2 separate regions of the Homo sapiens genome follow, and region 2 is linked to region 1. The links come from fine-mapping of genetic effects on gene expression. A gene starts in region 1. The other region holds a variant in brackets. All regions are shown on one strand. Distances are between the middles of the regions. Region 1 holds the start of PPP1CA (protein phosphatase 1 catalytic subunit alpha). Region 2 holds the start of LOC124902695 (a long non-coding RNA gene).

What was found. PIP is the estimated chance that this variant, and not a neighbour inherited with it, causes the effect.
Region 2: its variant is fine-mapped to the expression of PPP1CA in whole blood (TOPMed, PIP above 0.99).

Annotation. Positions count from the first base shown.
Region 1 is chr11:67,397,746-67,406,261 of GRCh38, forward strand. It overlaps PPP1CA (protein phosphatase 1 catalytic subunit alpha), which reads right to left and starts at 4,113. Exons shown (of 7, transcript NM_002708.4): 1 at 3,983-4,113; 2 at 3,323-3,454; 3 at 2,944-3,174; 4 at 1,816-1,920; 5 at 1,195-1,418; 6 at 977-1,111; 7 at 438-900. The coding sequence starts at 4,037. The coding sequence ends at 790. It overlaps RAD9A (RAD9 checkpoint clamp component A), which reads left to right. Exons shown (of 11, transcript NM_004584.3): 11 at 1-665. TBC1D10C (TBC1 domain family member 10C) reads left to right here and starts at 6,338. Exons shown (of 9, transcript NM_001369496.1): 1 at 6,338-6,609; 2 at 7,340-7,439; 3 at 7,654-7,761; 4 at 7,850-7,956; 5 at 8,158-8,272. The coding sequence starts at 6,458. RefSeq lists enhancers at 1-343, 344-924, 7,316-7,485 and a silencer at 3,595-4,374.
Region 2 is chr11:67,126,957-67,134,956 of GRCh38, forward strand. The region is part of intron 2 of KDM2A (lysine demethylase 2A); the gene reads left to right. It overlaps LOC124902695 (a long non-coding RNA gene), which reads left to right and starts at 7,655. Exons shown (of 2, transcript XR_007062740.1): 1 at 7,655-7,691. The variant G/A (reference allele first, on the strand shown) is at 4,065.

The DNA.
Region 1 (8,516 bases):
CGTTATCTCCCCACAACCCCCAGCCAATCAGGACTTTCCAGACTTGGCCCTGAACTACTGACGTTCCTACCTCTTATTTCTCATTGAGCCTCAGGCTATACTCCAGCTGGCCAAGGCTGGAAACCTGTCTCCCTCAGGCTCACCTTCCTAAGGAAAATGTCATAGTAGGTGCTGCTGGCCCCTGGTGATCCAGCTTCTCTGCCAATCATGACCTGTTCCTTCCTGAAGTCCTGGGCATGCATCTGGGACCCCCGTGGAGCTGACAAGTTTTCCTTGCTTTCCTGATACTCTTTGGCGCTGACTTGGAATTCTAAGAGCCTTGGACCCGAGTGTGTGGCTAGGGTTGCCCTGGCTGGGGCCCGGTGCCGAGACTCCCAAGCGGCTCTGTGCAGAAGAGCTGCCAGGCAGTGTCTTAGATGTGAGACGGAGGCCATGGCGAGAATCCAGCTTTGACCTTTATTCAAGAGACCAGATGGGTTGCCCCAGGATCCGGCTGCCAGCCCTGAGGCCAAGCACGGCTGGAGACCCACGACCTGGCCTGCCGTTGCCCTGAGCTGCAGCCTCGGCCCCAGGATCCTGCTCACAGTCACCGCAGGTGCAGGCAGGAAGCAGCCCTGGGGGACTGGACGCTGCTATTGATTCATTAAAAAAAGAAAAGAAAAATACACCAAGGCTCCATGTTCCCCGTGACAGGTGGGCCTGAGGGGTCGGGGTGACCCCCCCCCAGCATGGCAGCATGATTTCTGTACAATCAATCCATCATCTGGGGCACAGGGTGGTGTGCGGGGGCTATTTCTTGGCTTTGGCGGAATTGCGGGGTGGGGTGATGGGTCGGCCTCCAGGGTTCAGGCCACTGAACTGCCCGTACTTCCCCTTGTTCTTGTCGGCGGGCTTGAGGATCTAAAAGAGACAGTGTTGGTCAGGCTCATGGGGCTGAGCCACAGGGCCTAGCGGCTCCTTTCTTCCCCACACTCACCTGGAAAGAGCACATGAGGGTCTCGTCCACACTCATCATGGCGCCAGCATTGTCAAACTCGCCACAGTAGTTGGGAGCTGAGAAAAGTGTCACCAGCTGCCGCTTGGCAAAGAACTCGTAGCCGTCTTCTACCACCTGGGCGAGGATGGGAGCAGTCAGTCCCGAGCGCAGGCACGGCCCTCCCCTTCCCCTGCCGCAGGCCGGAGCCACCAGCCCACCTGGTGTGCTCGGCAGATGAGGTCCAAGTCGTGCTTGTGGAGGAACTTGGCCACCACCTCGGCTCCAAAGGTAAAAGAGACGCCACGGTCGTTCTCGCCCCAGCCCTGCACGTCCTTGTCAGGGTCAGACCACAGCAGGTCACACAGCAGGCCCTGGTCAGGCACATCTGTGGGCCGCATGATCCGCCGAATCTGCTCCATAGACTGCAGGTCCGGGGACAGGCCTGGGGGGCCGGGGGAAGGTCACTTCCTCAAACAAGGACATCCTCCCTCCAGGAAGCCTTGGCCAATGAACCCCACCTTTCCCACCACCCTCCTGGTCCCGCCACTGGTCTCCTGGGCGCCTAGACAGGCAGAAGTCATCCCCTTCCCCTCAGCTTTTTCAAGTTCCCAAACAGGCACAAAGGCATCCCTGCCCTCAGGAGCACAGAGCTCCCGGGAGAAAGGAGACAAGCCCACTCCATGTAGGACACACATCAAGGAAGTGAGTGCAGCCCAGCACAGTGGGGTATGGGGGACACTTCCTGGAAGGAGTGACTTCCCAGATGAGACCTAAGGAGAGCTGCCGGGTGCTGAGGGATGCGGCCAGTGCTCCTCCTCCCCAGCCATCCCCTCCCTCACCTCCGTGGCAGCAGAAGATCTTTTCGTCCACTATGGCCGCGATGGGCAGGCAGTTGAAGCAGTCAGTGAAGGTTTTCCACAGTTTGATGTTGTAGCGTCTCTTGCCTGCCCAGGGGGAGGTGGCTGTGAGGTGCCTGCCTACCCCACCCTCAGCCAGGGTCCCTGGGCTATTCAGCCGTGGCTGGGAGGAGAGAGTCAGGCACCGATGCAAACCACCCCCCACCCCTGCCACCTGTCAGCCTTCCAGGAGCAATTCTAGTTACTTTTTATTTTAATTAAAGAAGACAGGATCTGGCCAGGCGCAGTGGCTAAGACCTGTAATCCCAGCACTTTGGGAGGCCGAGGCGGGCGGATCACCTGAGGTCAGAAGTTCGAGACCAGCCTGACCAACATGGAGAAACCTCGTCTCTACTAAAATACAAAAAAATCAGCCAGGCGTGGTGGCGCATGCCTGTAATCCCAGCTACTTGGGAGGCTGAGGCAGGAGAATCGCTTGAACCCAGGAGACGGAGGTTGTGGTGAGCCGAGATCACACCATTGCACTCTAGCCTGGGCAACAAGAGTGAAACTCCGTCTCAAAAAAGTAAAGAAACAGGGTCTTGCTCTGTCACCCAGGCTGGAGTGCAGTGGCAAGATCATAGCTCACTGTAACTTGGAGCTTCTGGGTCCAAGGGATCTTCCCGCCTCGGCCTCCTGCCAGAAGTAATTCTAAAGCACCCGAGTCCACTGGAAACTAAGTTCCAATCTGGACCAGCCTCAGGGTTGGCACTCCTCGCATGCCCCCACCCATGAGCCGGGCCAAGTCCAGGTCTGGTTTATCTCAGCTTCTGGACAGCAGAGCCCATCTGCAAACATCCTAAGTGCTTAGTAGCAAATGTAGGGGGAGTGTCACCAGGCAGGGCCCTGGGGGAAAGCACTAGAATCCGGGCAGCCCTTCAGTCAGCAACCATTCCCCAGACCCCATGCCAGGAGGGGCAGGGCAGGCACGAGAACGGACCTGGGCCCCGCCTTCGTGGAGCGCACAGTCTATCAAGTGTCTGTCAGATATCAGGCCAATGTGAAGGTCCCACTGAATGGCAAAGAGTGCGGTTCAGGACCCGGGCAGCCCCAGACGCTCAGACCACTCACACTCATCGTAGAAACCATAGATGCGGTTGATGCTGGCACACTCGTGGTTCCCACGGAGCAGGAAGAAGTTCTCGGGGTACTTGATCTTATAGGCCAGCAGCAGGCAGATGGTCTCCAAGGACTGCTTGCCCCTGTCCACATAGTCCCCCAGAAAGAGGTAGTTGCTCTCGGGAGGGAAACCGCCATACTCAAATAGTCGCAGAAGGTCGTAGTACTGGCCGTGTATGTCACCTGTGACCCAGGGAACCGGGTAAGCTAGATGCAAGGTCTAGACCTGAACCCAGGGCCAGGACTGCGCTCAAGGGAGGAGGGCTCCAGGAACTCTGTGGGGTCCAGTGCCACTTTTAGGAAGGCAAGGGGACCTGGGCCGGGGGCTCACCGCAGATCTTGAGGGGTGCCTCCAGCTCCAGAAGAATGGGCTGGCTCAGAAAAATCTCCCGGGATTTCAGGCACAGACCGCGGATCTCGTTCTCTGTCAGCTGTACATTCTTGCCAGGCCGCGAGCCCTGCACTGGGGCGCAATGGGGTGTCAGGACCCTGGACCCTGACAGGAGGAGGGTGGGCGACACGGGTGGCCCCATGGATACCTCCGGGGGCGCCTAGGCCTCCTCGGCCCCTCCTTGCCCACAGGCAGCTGTTGCTGCTGAGCCTCCCGGGACCGCGGCCTCAAGCCTCCCAGGGGAAGCCCCCAGCTACCCTCAGCGCCTCGGGAGGCGACTGTCGTGCGCAGGGGGCTGCCACCAAAAACCTCACAGCGCAGGACCCCTTCCTGGACCGGGCTTCCCGGGTTTCTCCCTCGCCCCAAGAGCCCAGGCAACCCGTGCGCCCCCAGCCCGGGAGAGGGGGGGAGCTGCTCCGCGCGTCGGAGCTGGCCCCGGACCTCTCAGGCGCGTCCGCGGGGGGGCAGCTGCGGCCACGGAACCTCGCTGCCCGTCCCCGCCCAGTCTAAGCTGGCCCCGGGGGCCCGCCCGCGCGCCACTTCCGGGCCGGGCAGGGGGCCAGGGCGCGGCGGACGCGGGCCTCCCCCGCCCCGACCAACCTTCCAGCAGGCGCCCGATGATCGAGTCCAGGTTGAGCTTCTCGCTGTCGGACATGGCGGCGCCGCCGCTCCAGCCCAGCAGCTCCTGGCCCGCTCCTGCCTCCCGCCCTCCGGCAGCCTCCTTCCGGCCTGGCTCTCCTTCCGCCCGCCCCAGTCCGCCCCCGGCCCGCGGCCCCGCCTCCAGGCCTCCCGGGCCCGCCCCGCCCAGTCCCCCGCCCTCTAGCGCCCCCGCTGGACGTGAGGCGCGGCGGCCCGGGGGGCGGGGCCTCGGCGGCGGGCTGGGGGCGGGGTCTGTCGGGGGCGTGACCAAGCTGGTTACGCCCCAGAGGAGGCGCCCAGCCCTGTTCAGAGGATGTGGGGCCGGAAGGACTGTGGAAGTTGTTTTTCTCTTTCAAAAGCCCAACAGACTTTCCCACCCCTTCCCTGGGTGGAAGGTGTTGTGAACATGTTAATAACCGGCTGCTAGGCACTGAGGGTTAACTGCTCCAAGTGCAGGAAAGGAAACTGAGGCTCAAGAGATAAAAACAGCCTGGACCTCGCATTCACGGAGGACCCCCCACTTCTTCGTGGGTCTCTGTGGCGCCCAGGCGGCTGACCACACTCAAAGACAGCTACGGCTGAATTCCCAGCGCACTTTGGTCCTTGGGGCATGCTAAATTAATATTTTCTTATAAGTCCCATAATTCGCTTTTTTTTTTTGAGACAGAGTTTTGCTCTGTCCCCCAGGCTGGAGTGCAGTGGCGCGACTTTGGCTCACTGCAACATTCACTTCCCGGGTTCAAGCGATTCTCCTGCCTCAGCCTCTGGAGTAGCTGGGATTACAGGCGTGCGCCACTGTGCCCAGCTAATTTTTGTATTTTTAGCAGAGGTGGGGTTTCGCCATGTTGGCCAGGTGGCCTTGAACTCCTAACCTCAAGTGATCCACCCCCCTTGACCTCCCAAAGTGCTAGGATTACAGGCGTGAGCCAACAAGCCTGGCCCCATAATTAGCTTTTGAGTAGCACAGTAATATTGCAGGGTGTGCACATAAAAATAATTACTTTATGAGCAGACGTGGCTGGGCACAGTGGCTCACGCCTGTAATCCCAGGACTTTGGGAGGCCTAGGCGGGCGGATCATTTGAGGTCAGGAGTTCGAGACCAGCCTGGCCAACATGGTGAAACCCCATCTCTCTAAAAATACAAAAAGTTAGCTGGGCATGATGGGAGCCTCCTGTAATCCCAGCTACTTGGGAGGCTGAGGCAGGAGAATCGCTTGAACCTGGGAAGTGGAGCCCAGGCGACAGTGCGAGACTGTCTCAAAAAAAAAAAAAAAAAAAAGAAGAGCAGACGATAAATGAACCTTAATTCTTGTTGGAACCCTGAGTTGGTGCTTTACATGCCAGTAACCTCAGAACTGGAAGTGGGCCTGCCGTGGTGGCTCAGGCCTGTAATTCCAGCACTTTGGGAGGCTAAGGCGGGATGGTCTCTTGCGTCCAGCCTGGGCAACACAGCGAAACCCTGTCTCAACAAAAAATACAAAAATTAGCTGGGCATGGTGGTGCGCGCCTGCAGTCCCAGCTACTGTGGAGGCTGACGCAGGAGGATCTCTTGAGACCAGGAGGTGGAGGTTGCAGTGAGCCCAGATCGTGCCATTACACTCCAGCCTGGGTGACAGAGCAAGACCCTGTCTCAAGAAACAAACATGAAGTCCAGGCGCAGTGGCTCATGCCTGCAATCCCAGCACTTTGGGAGGCTGAGGTGGATGGATCACCTGAGGTCAAGAGTTTGACCAATGTGGCAAAAACCCTGTCTCTACTAAAAATACAAAAATTAGCCGGGCATGGTGGTGCTTGTCTGTAGTCCCTGCTACTTGGGGGGCTGAGGCAGGAGAATCACTTGAATCCGGGAGGTGGAGGTTGCAGTGAGCTGAGACCGCGCCACTGCACTCCAGCCTGGGCAACAGAGCGAGACTCTGTCTCAAAAGAAACAAACAAAAGAACTGGAGGTGGCCCGGCCCCTGCGTCTAACAGTCCTGGGCCCTCCACACCAGCACAGGAACTCAAGCCTGCAGTCACTGGGGCCATGGGGAAGGTGGGAGGAGCCCACAGCTCAGGGGCACTGGGGCAGGCAGGAAGAGCCTCAGAGAGGAAGGGGTGACACCCCCCACCCTTGGGAGGGGCCCCCAGCGGTTGCCAAAGCTGTGTGAGGAGGAGGAGGAAGTGAGAGGAGGAGGTGAGGTGCTGCGGGAGGTGAGCTGGGCTGGTGGGGACAGGGGCAGGGCTTGGGGCTGGGTCTCCGGACAGAGGCCTGGCTTTTCTGTCAGGGCAGGGCCTAGCCCCTGCCCCCATAAAAGAGGAGACATAGGGGGCTTGGTGAGATACCCTGAAACCTCCCCCCTCTGACCCCGCAGCCAGGCCCCAGGCTGGCCGGGAGTGGCCCCTCACACTGGTTCTCCCCACTTTCTCTGCCTGTGGCATCGAAGGCCCCGGGCACCATGGCCCAGGCCCTGGGGGAGGACCTGGTGCAGCCTCCCGAGCTGCAGGATGACTCCAGCTCCTTGGGGTCCGACTCAGAGCTCAGCGGGCCTGGCCCATATCGCCAGGCCGACCGCTATGGATTCATTGGGGGCAGCTCAGCAGAGCCAGGGTAAGGGGGCAGGGTGAGGGCTGGCGGAATGCTGGGACAGAGGACAGGGGGCTGAGGGCTGAATTCTGGAGGGAGGCCGGGAGGGTCTGGTGGTAGGGATTGGGAGGGGGACTCAGCCAGTAGCACCCCTCTGCAGGTGCCAGGTGGAACCCTAAGGTGGGAAGGGTCCGGGGAGGCCTCTGTACGTCTCTTACCCCCAGCCTCCGAGGGTTTGCACCCACTACTGGGGCAGAACATCCTTCCCCTTTGAACCTCTGGCTCAGGAATCCCAGATCCAAATCACAGAACCCATACCTCCTCCTTCCCCCTTTCCCCAAGCTACAGACAGAAACACAAGTCCAGATATAGACAGAAACTTGCCCCAGGTCACACAGATCAGACACAGACCCAGACTCAAACTCAGGACTCTGGGCTTCCAGTCCAGGGCTCTCTCCAGCCAGCTTCCCCTATGAATTGTCTGTGTCCCTGTCCTGGGTGACAGCCAACCAGTCCCTCCCCCAATACACACCCACTCACCCCTTCAGTCTCCTGCTTCTGCCCACGTCGGAGCCACATCCTTTCCTGTCCCCGTGACAAGCATTGGCAGCTCCTGGGTCACAGGTCACCCCACAGGGCTCCCAGAGATCCCTAGGGCCAGGAGCTGGGTTCACCTGGGTAGCCTGGAGGGTGGCAGTGTGGGCCTTGGGTAACAGCTGCCCAGCGTCTGGATACCTGTGCCATGCACCCCCAGGCCGGGCCACCCACCTGCAGACCTCATCCGCCAACGGGAGATGAAGTGGGTGGAGATGACCTCGCACTGGGAGAAAACCATGTCCCGGCGGTACAAGAAGGTGAGGGGGGCAGGGGCCCCACTTGGCTTCCATGGCTCATTCCTCTCTGCCTCAGCCCACATCTTGGCAAAATGTACCCACCCTGTGTCCCAGCACCTCCGGCCTTTGCTCCCTGCCACCCAAAGTGGGCCCCTGCCTGCTGATGAGCTGTGCCTGGGGCCTGCCAGCAGGAGCTATGGAGGCTGCCTAGTGGAGCCCTTGGCCTCACCCACAGGTAAAGATGCAGTGCCGGAAAGGCATCCCGTCTGCCCTGCGCGCCCGATGCTGGCCCCTGTTGTGTGGGGCCCATGTGTGCCAGAAGAACAGCCCTGGCACCTATCAGGTGAGGGAGTGGGCAGGGGCCCCAATTCCCCTACCCAGAGCCCCTCACCACACTGAACCCTCACACCCACCTTCCTGGCTACCCACAGGAGCTGGCAGAGGCCCCTGGAGACCCACAGTGGATGGAGACCATTGGCAGGGACCTGCACCGTCAATTCCCTCTGCACGAGATGTTTGTGTCGCCTCAGGGCCACGGGTACGAGGCCGGTGATGCCCAGGGACCCCCAGCCCCACAAGCCCCAGGTGCTCCAGCCCACTTTCCCTAGCCCAGCTCTACAGTCTTGCATCTCAGGGGACCCAGGAAGGCCCAGGGAGGCTGAGGCCTGGGCAGAGGCCCCCAGAGGGTGGAGAAGGGGGTGCCTGCAGGACTGGCCCCTTATGGGGTCTTCCGGCACAGGCAGCAGGGGCTCCTGCAGGTGCTCAAGGCCTACACCCTGTATCGACCGGAGCAGGGCTACTGCCAGGCCCAGGGGCCCGTGGCTGCTGTGCTGCTCATGCACCTGCCCCCAGAGGTGAGTGACCTTGACCCTGCTCTGGGAACCCTAGTGACCTAGGCCCAGGGAACCCCATCCCCAGGAACTGTGGCCTCAGAAACCTGCAATCCTTGATTCCTGGACCCTGTCCTAGTGACCCAGGTCCTCATGACTGCCAGCCTCAGTGACCTTCAAGCCTAATGACCTTGACTCCAGGAACCTGGGACCCTTGACCCCAGCCTTGACCCCAGTCATCTAGGAATCTGGATGTTATCACCTTGAC
Region 2 (8,000 bases), 270 kb before region 1:
ACTTTTGTATATTGATTGCCAGAACAAAGCCAGAACTCTGATGCAAGTTTGTATACCTGAGAAGGTACTCAAGTGGGAGGGATAGAAGCTTCCTTTTGATGCTGGGGTGGGTTGTTCTGAGGTAACAATGATTTATTTCTGTATTTCTTTTTCTTTTTGGAGACAGGGTCTCACTCCGTTGCCCAGGCTAGAGTGCAGTGGTGTGATCATTCCTCTTTGTAGCCTCAACCGCCTGGCTCAAGTGGTCCTCCCATCTCAGCATGTAGCTGGGACTACAGGCATGCATGTGCCACCATGCCTGGCTAATTTTTAATTTTTTCTGTAAAGGCAGGCTATCCCTGTTCGGGCTGCTCAGGCTGGTCTGGTTTTTTTTGCTCAGTCTGGTCTTGAACTCCCAGACTCAAGCGATCCACCTTGGCTTCCCAAAGTGCTGGGAGTACAGGTGTGAGCCACTATGCCTGGTGTGCTTGTCAATCTTGATGAAATTGAGAGTTTTTAGCACTTTCACCTAGCAAAAAAAAATAAAAAATAAGAAATTGAGAGCTTTTCTAAAAGATGTTATTATCGCATGTTCAATCCTGTTAACCTGTCTTACATATAATTATGAAATAGCTAAATCATTTATCTGTTACAAGGAACTGCGGCCACTGAAACTCTGGCAATAGTCCCACCTTTCCTTGGTTTACCTTTGAAAGTGCCTCCCCAAATTCAGCAGCGATTACCAGATTATCTTTTTTAAATTAATTAATTTATTTATTTATTTATTTTGAGATGGAGTTTTGCTCTTGTTGCCGAGGCTGGAGTGCTATGACGCAATCTGGGCTCACCGCAACCTCCCTCTCCTGGGTTCAAGCGATTCTCCTGCTTCAGCCTCTGAGTAGCTGGGATTACAGGCATGCACCACCATGCCCGGCTAATTTTGTATTTTTGGTAGAGACGGGGTTTCACCATGTTAGCCAGGCTGGTTTCAAACTCCCGACCTCAGGCAGGCGATCTGCCTGCCTCGGCTTCCCAAAGTGCTGGGATTACAGTTGTGAGCCAGCACACCCGGCCTTTTTTTTTTTTTTTTTTTTTTTTAGGCGGGGTCTTGCTCTGTTGCCCAGGCCGGAGTGCAATGGCACTACCACTGCAGCATCAGCCTCCCCAAGTGATCCTCTTACCTCAGCCTCCTGAGTGGCTGGTACCACAGATACATGCCACCACACCTGGCTTATTTTTAAATTCTTTCTAGAGACAGGTTTTCACTGTGTTGTCCAGGCTGGTCTCGAACTCCTGGGCTTAAGTGATCCTCTCTCCTGCCTGGAGGCCTCTCCAGCCTCCCCAGCTCCTGGGATTATAAGTGTGAGCCACTGCGCCTGGACCCGTTCCCACTCTGAGGTCTTTCTGACTGAGAATGGACTAGATAAAATAGAATATTTATTTTAAGCCTTTTTTTTTTCTAGTATGAAAGTATAATGTTAGCTAGAAAAAATTATATGTGGTCTACATTGTTGAATTAGTTTATTTCTAATTATTTTATGAGATTTAGTCTTTAGTCTGTGTTGGTAGAGAGTGCACTGGTCTCATTGTTGCGGCCTCCCTCCTAATAATGTAGGAAAAACTTGACCATTTTTGGGTGATTCAAAAATGCAGATAATGACAACTAATTTTTTATTCTTATACATCAGTCTTCCACAGTAAGCTATATTTTGGGCCCCTAGAATGAGGATTAAATTTAAGCCCTATTATTTTCTGTTGTTTTATTTTGCTGAGCATTAATCACTACTGTACTTTGTGTATAGCTTTCCACTAGAGTATAAGCTTCTTGAGAGTTGGGGCTTTGTTTTTGTTTATGCTGTGTGCTAGATGCTTCAAATAGGGCCTAACACATAGCAAGTGCTGAATAAGTATTTGTTGATATTGTTGAAAGCCTGGATATATGCTCTTCTTTGCTACCAATTTTCTTGAATGCTAGGATTAAGCCACTAGAGTGGAGGAGGGTCTGGATGCAGTGGCTCTCACCTGTGGTCCCAGCTACCCAGGAGGTTGAGGCAGAAGTATCATTTGAGCCCAGGGGCTTAAGGCTGTGATGAGCTATGACTGTGCCAGTGCACTCCAGCTTGGGCTACAGAGCAAGACCCTGTCTCTAAAAAAATGAATAAATTAGAATGGAGGACACTTTGGCAGGTAGGGATGAGGAGGATATCTGGATATTGGGTCTTGCAGTGTAGATAAGAAACAGAGACCTAAACTATAACAAATAAAAACGTATGTGTAGCACACATGTCAGACTACCACATTGATGATGTTTGGTATTTGGACCATTTAGAACAAATAATAAAGTGTCTAGTTGATTTTAAAAGTTTAGTCTGTCTAGGTACAGTGACTTAGGCCTGTAATCCCAGCACTTTGGGAGACCAAGGCCAGTGGAATGCTTGACGTCAGGAGTTGAAGACCAGCCTGACCAACATGGTGAAACCCCGTCTCTACTAAAAATACAAAAATTAGCCGGGCATAGGCCGGGCGCGGTGGCTCACACCTGTAATCCCAGCACTTTGGAAGGCCGAGGCGGGCGGATCACAAGGTCAGGAGATCGAGACCATCCTGGCTAACACGGTGAAACCCCGTCTCTACTAAAAATACAAAAAATTAGCCGGGCGTGATGGTGGGCGCCTGTAGTCCCAGCTACTTAGGAGGCTGAGGCAGGAGAATGGTGTGAACCCGGGAGGCGGAGCTTGCAGTGAGCCCAGATCACGCCACTGCACTCCAGTCTGGGTGACAGAGCGAGACTCCATCTCAAAAAAAAAAAAAAAAAGAAAAAGAAAAATAGCCGGGCATAGTGGCACATGCCTGTAATCCCAGCTACCCAGGAGGCTGAGACAGGAGAATCGCTTCAACTCGGGAGGCAGAGGTTGCTGTACGCCGAGATCGTGCCACTGCACTCCAGCCTGGGCGACAGAGACTCTGTCTCAAAAAAAAAAATTAAAAAAATTAAAGTTTAGTCTGAATTTTAAGCTCTCCTATTCTTTTTTTTTTTTTCTTTTGTGAGACAGTTTCACTGTGGTCACTCAGGCTGGAGTGCAATGGTGCGATCTCTGCTCACTGCAACCTCCGCCTCCCGGGTTCAAGTGATTCTTCAGCCTCAGCCTCCCTAGTAGCTGGGATTACAGGCGTCCGCCACCCCACCTGGCTAATTTTTTTTTTTTTCTTGCACCAAAGCTTTCTAAAGTTAGTGATTTATTTCTGACAAGTTTGCAAAACCCAAGAGAGAGCAGTTTTCTGGGTTGAACTCATACTTCGTGTTTACTCGAGTCTGAGTCACGGCACCTGACTTCCTCACAGGTGCACCTGACTGCTCTTTACCACCTGGCTAATTTTTATATTGTTTTAGTAGAGACAGGGTTTCACCATGTTGGTCAGGCTGGTCTCAAACTCCTCACCTCCAGTGATCCGCCCACTTCGGCCTCCCAAAGTGTTGGGATTACAGGCGTGAGCCACCATGCCCGGCCTTAAGCTCTCCTGTTCTAATCCTGTCCTAAACTGTGCCTAGGTTTTGCTGACCTTTAGACAGCCTTAAAGCTGTGAAGTTGCAAGTGATGATGTTTGTGTTATTCTCGGGTCTTGGTTTTGGTTATTAAGTCAAGGAATTGATACATTATGTATATCATGTAGATAGACATACATTCTTTGTATCTTTCTATTTTGGGGGGGTAACGGACACTCTTAATTAGGTTTCATTAATTTTCTCTGTTTATCTCACTTTTGGAATAATACTTTATTTTTGCATTGCACTTTCACATCAAAAAGGGTTAAAATTCAGTAAACATTTATTATATGCCAGATAGTAGGCTAGGTTCTTTCATATATATTACCTTATTTAATTCTCAAAACAACCCTGGAAGGTAGATGGTATCGTTTTAAACCTTGATTTTTTTTTTTTTTTTAATTATGGAGAGAGAGGCCCAGGGAGGGGCCATGACTTGCCCAAGATCACAGAGTCGGTAAGAGGTGAAACCAGACCTTGAACTCAGGTACCCTGACTCCAAACTCCCAGGTTTCTTCTCTCATACCATCCAACGTCTCTT[G/A]TGTACTTTATACAGAAAACAGGCCGGGTGCAGTGGCTCACGCCTGTAATCCCAACTACTTTGCAAGGCCGAGGCGGGCAGATTGCCTGAGGTCAGGAGTTCAAGACCAGCCTGGCCAACATGACGAAACCCCATCTCTACTAAAAATACAAAATTAGCTGGGCATGGTGGTGCACGCCTGTAGTCCCAGCTACTCGGGAGGCTGAGGTGGGAGAATCGCCTGAACCTGGGAGGTGGAGGTTGCTGTGAGCTGAGATCTCACCGTCGCACTCCAGCCTGGGTGACAAGAGCGAAACTCCGTCTCAAAAAAATAATAATAATAACACTCTTACTCCACGGTGTGTAGGCTGAGTACTTTCTCTCTTTTGAGGCTACTTTAGTGTTTTCTTTTCTTTTTTTTTTTTTTTTGAGATGGAATTTCGCTCTTGTCGCCCAGGTTGGAGTGTAGTGGTGCGATATTGGCTCACTGAAACCTCTGCCTCCCAGGTTCAGGCAATTCTCCTGCCTCAGCCTCCTTAGTAGCTGGGATTACAGGCGTGTGCCACCACGCCTGGCTAATTTTTGTATTTTTAGTAGAGATGGGGTTTTACCATATTGGCCAGGCTGGTCTGGAACTCCTGACCTCGGGTGATCCACTTGCCTTGGCCTCCCAGAATGCTGAGATTACAGGCATGAGCCACGACTTTCCGCCTACTTTAACATTTTCTTGCTAACGTCTGTCTGCTTAACATCCTGAATTAGATAGCTATAAATATTTGATAGCCAGTGTTTGATTATGTTTCAAACAAAGATGGCACATTCTTTCTTTTCATGAACTTTGAACTTATTGCACTTGATCTGTTAAAACGGCAGTATTGTGCAGTTTGTGTGTATGTCAAGGCTTTTATTTATGTATGTCACTCATATCCTTGTTTTCTGTTTTAAATTTTAGGTTCTTGGGGTTTTTCTCTGTCTGTGAGTACTTGGTAAAAAGTTAAACCCTAAAGATAAAAGGCAGCAAATAGTGACCAAACGAATGTTTTTGGCAAATACATTGGTGAAGGCCTCCTTCAGGTAGGTAGAGAGGAGGAGGGAAGAGGGTGGCCTTTCAGGTGGTAAAGACAGCATAAGCTTTATACTACTACTATAAGGCCTATTCTGTGGATCTCTGATAGATGAGCAGACTGAAGTAGGTGGTGTCTTTTGAGGGGCACTGCTGATAACGTTGGGTAGAAATTTTAAACAACTTTGAAAGCCAAGTATGGACATAGCCATTAGAAGTTTTGTTTTTTTTGTTTTTTGGATATGGAGTCTCACTGCGATGTCCAGGCTAGAGTGCAATGGCACGATCTCGGCTCACTGTAACCTACGCTTCCTGGGTTCAAGCGATTCTCCTGCCTCAGCCTCCCAAGTAGCTGGGATTACAGGCACGTGCCACCACGCCCGGCTAATTTTTTGTATTTTTAGTAGAGACGGGGTCTCAACTATTATTGGCCAGGCTGGTCTGGAACTCCTGACCTCAAATGATCCGCCTGCCTCGGCCTCCCAAAGTACTGGGATTATAGGCATGAGCCGCTGCGTCCAGCCAGTTTGTTTTTAATATAACAGTGATTTGGCCAAAGTGGCATTTTGGGAGTAATGTCTCCAGTTTCAGGTCGGGGTGGTCTAGAAAGAAATTCAAATAGCTTGCCTTTTGAGGTGACAGGAACCCTGAACTCTTAAGGCAGTGGTTTTCAAAGTGTAGGTCTCTCATTAGCAGCATGAGCATTAACTGAGTGTCTGGGAACATATTAGAATGCAAATTCTTGGGCCCCACCCCAAACTTACTGAACCAGAAACTCTGGAGTTGGGGCCTAGCAATCTGTGTTTTAACAAGACAGGTGATTTTGATCCACGCAAAAGTTTGAGAACCATTGCTGTGGGTTATAGGTAGAAATGGAAAGGAAGAGATAGAAGCAAGACACATTGGCAGTGAAGGACTGACTAAACTTTGTAACTGATGGATAGCAGCATGTTATGATAGAGAAGAGTACTTAATTGGGGATGTTGAGCCTTGAGTTTTAGTATCAAGTCTCTTACCAATTGTGCTTTTATTCGTATTTATTTATTTATTTTTTGAGAGGGAGTTTCACTCTTGTTGGCCAGGCTGGAGTGTAATGGTGCTATCTTGGCTCAGTGCAATCTCCGCCTTCAGGGTTCAAGCACTTCTCCTGCCTCAGCCTCCCAGGTAGCTGGGATTACAGGCGTGCGCCACCACACTGCGCTAATTTTGTGTTTTTTTTTGTAGAGATGGTGTTTTACCATGTTGGTCAGGCTGGTCTCAAACTCCTGACCTCAAGTGATCCACCCGCCTTGGCCTCCCAAAGGGCTGGGATTATAGGTGTGAGCCACCGTGCCTGGCCTATTTTTATTTTTTGTTTTGAGACAGAATCTCACTCTGTTGCCCAGGCTGGAGTGCAGTGGCCTAATCTCTGCTCACTGTAACCTCTGCCTCCTGGGTTCAGGTGATTCTTCTGTCTCAGCCTCTCCAGTAGCTTGGATTACAGGCTCCCACCACCACGCCCGGCCAATTTTTATATTTTTAGTAGAGACGGGGTTTTGCCATGTTGGCCAGTCTGGTCTTGAACTCCTGACCTCAGGTGATCTGCCCACCTCGGCCTCCCAAAGTGCTGGGATTACAGGCGTGAGCCACCGCACCCGGCTTCCAACTGTGGTTTTTTTTTTGAGACAGAGTCTCTGGCTCCTAGGCTGACGTGCAGTGGCGCCATCTCGGCTTACTATAACTTCCGCCTCCCAGGTTCAAGCGATTCTCCTGCCTCAGCCAGCTGGGTTTACAGCCCTGCGCCACCACACCCAGGTAATTTTTGTATTTTTAGTAGAGACAGGGTTTCACCATGTTGGTCAGAGTGGTCTCAAACTCCTGACCTCGTGATCCTCCCACCTCGGCCTCCCAAAGTGCTAGGATTAGAGGCGTGAGCCACCATGCCCGGCACCAACTGTGGTTTTAAACAAGAAAACTGACCTGTCCTTGTTGAAGTTGTACAGTGTGCTTTCTGAGGATTTTGAAGGCAAAGACAAATGAAATACTAAGGTAGACTTTGGGATTTAGCTTGGATTACCAGGAAGACTGGGGGAAAGATTTTTTGAAACTTTGAGGAGAGAATATGAGTGGATGAGGCTTTAGACAGTTGGAGATACTAGAAGATTTAAAGCAGATTCTCAACTGGGGATGATTTTGCCCCCAAGGAAACATTTAGCAGTGGACATTTCTGATGGTCAGACTGGGGTAGTGCTACTGGTATTTAATGAGTAGAGGCTAGGGATGCTGCTAAAGCATTCTGCAGTGCACAGGACAGCCCTAACTACGATGAATGAACAGGTCCAGAATGTCAGTAGTACAAGGTTGACAAACCCTGATGTAAAGGGAAATACCCAGTAGATAGGTTGCATGTTTCCGTCCTGATTATCTGCTATTCATTTTATAATTTTATTTTTTAAAGTTTTATTTATTTATTTACTTTTTTTTTGAGACAGTCAATCTGTTGCCGAGGCTGGAATGTAGTGGTGCGATCTCGGCTCACTTAAACCTCTGCCTCTTGGGTTCAAGTGATTCTCCTGCCTCAGCCTCCTGAGTAGCTGGGATTACAGGTATGCGTCGCCACGCCCAGCTAATTTTTATATTTTTAGTGGAGACAGGATTTCGCCACGTTGACTAGGCTGGTCTCGAACTTCTGACCTCAGGTGATCCACCTGCTTCAGCCTCTCAAAGTGCTGGGATTACAAGTGTGAGCCACCTCACCTGGCCTTGAATTTTAGATAAATCTAACACAAAACATCTCAAAAGCAGTCTCACATTGTGTTTCCCACATCATGCTTTGCAAAAGTAAGCATGAAGCCCTTTTTCTGTTGTTGAATTTTCACAAAACTAACTTCATGGTCATGACAATCCTCAACCCA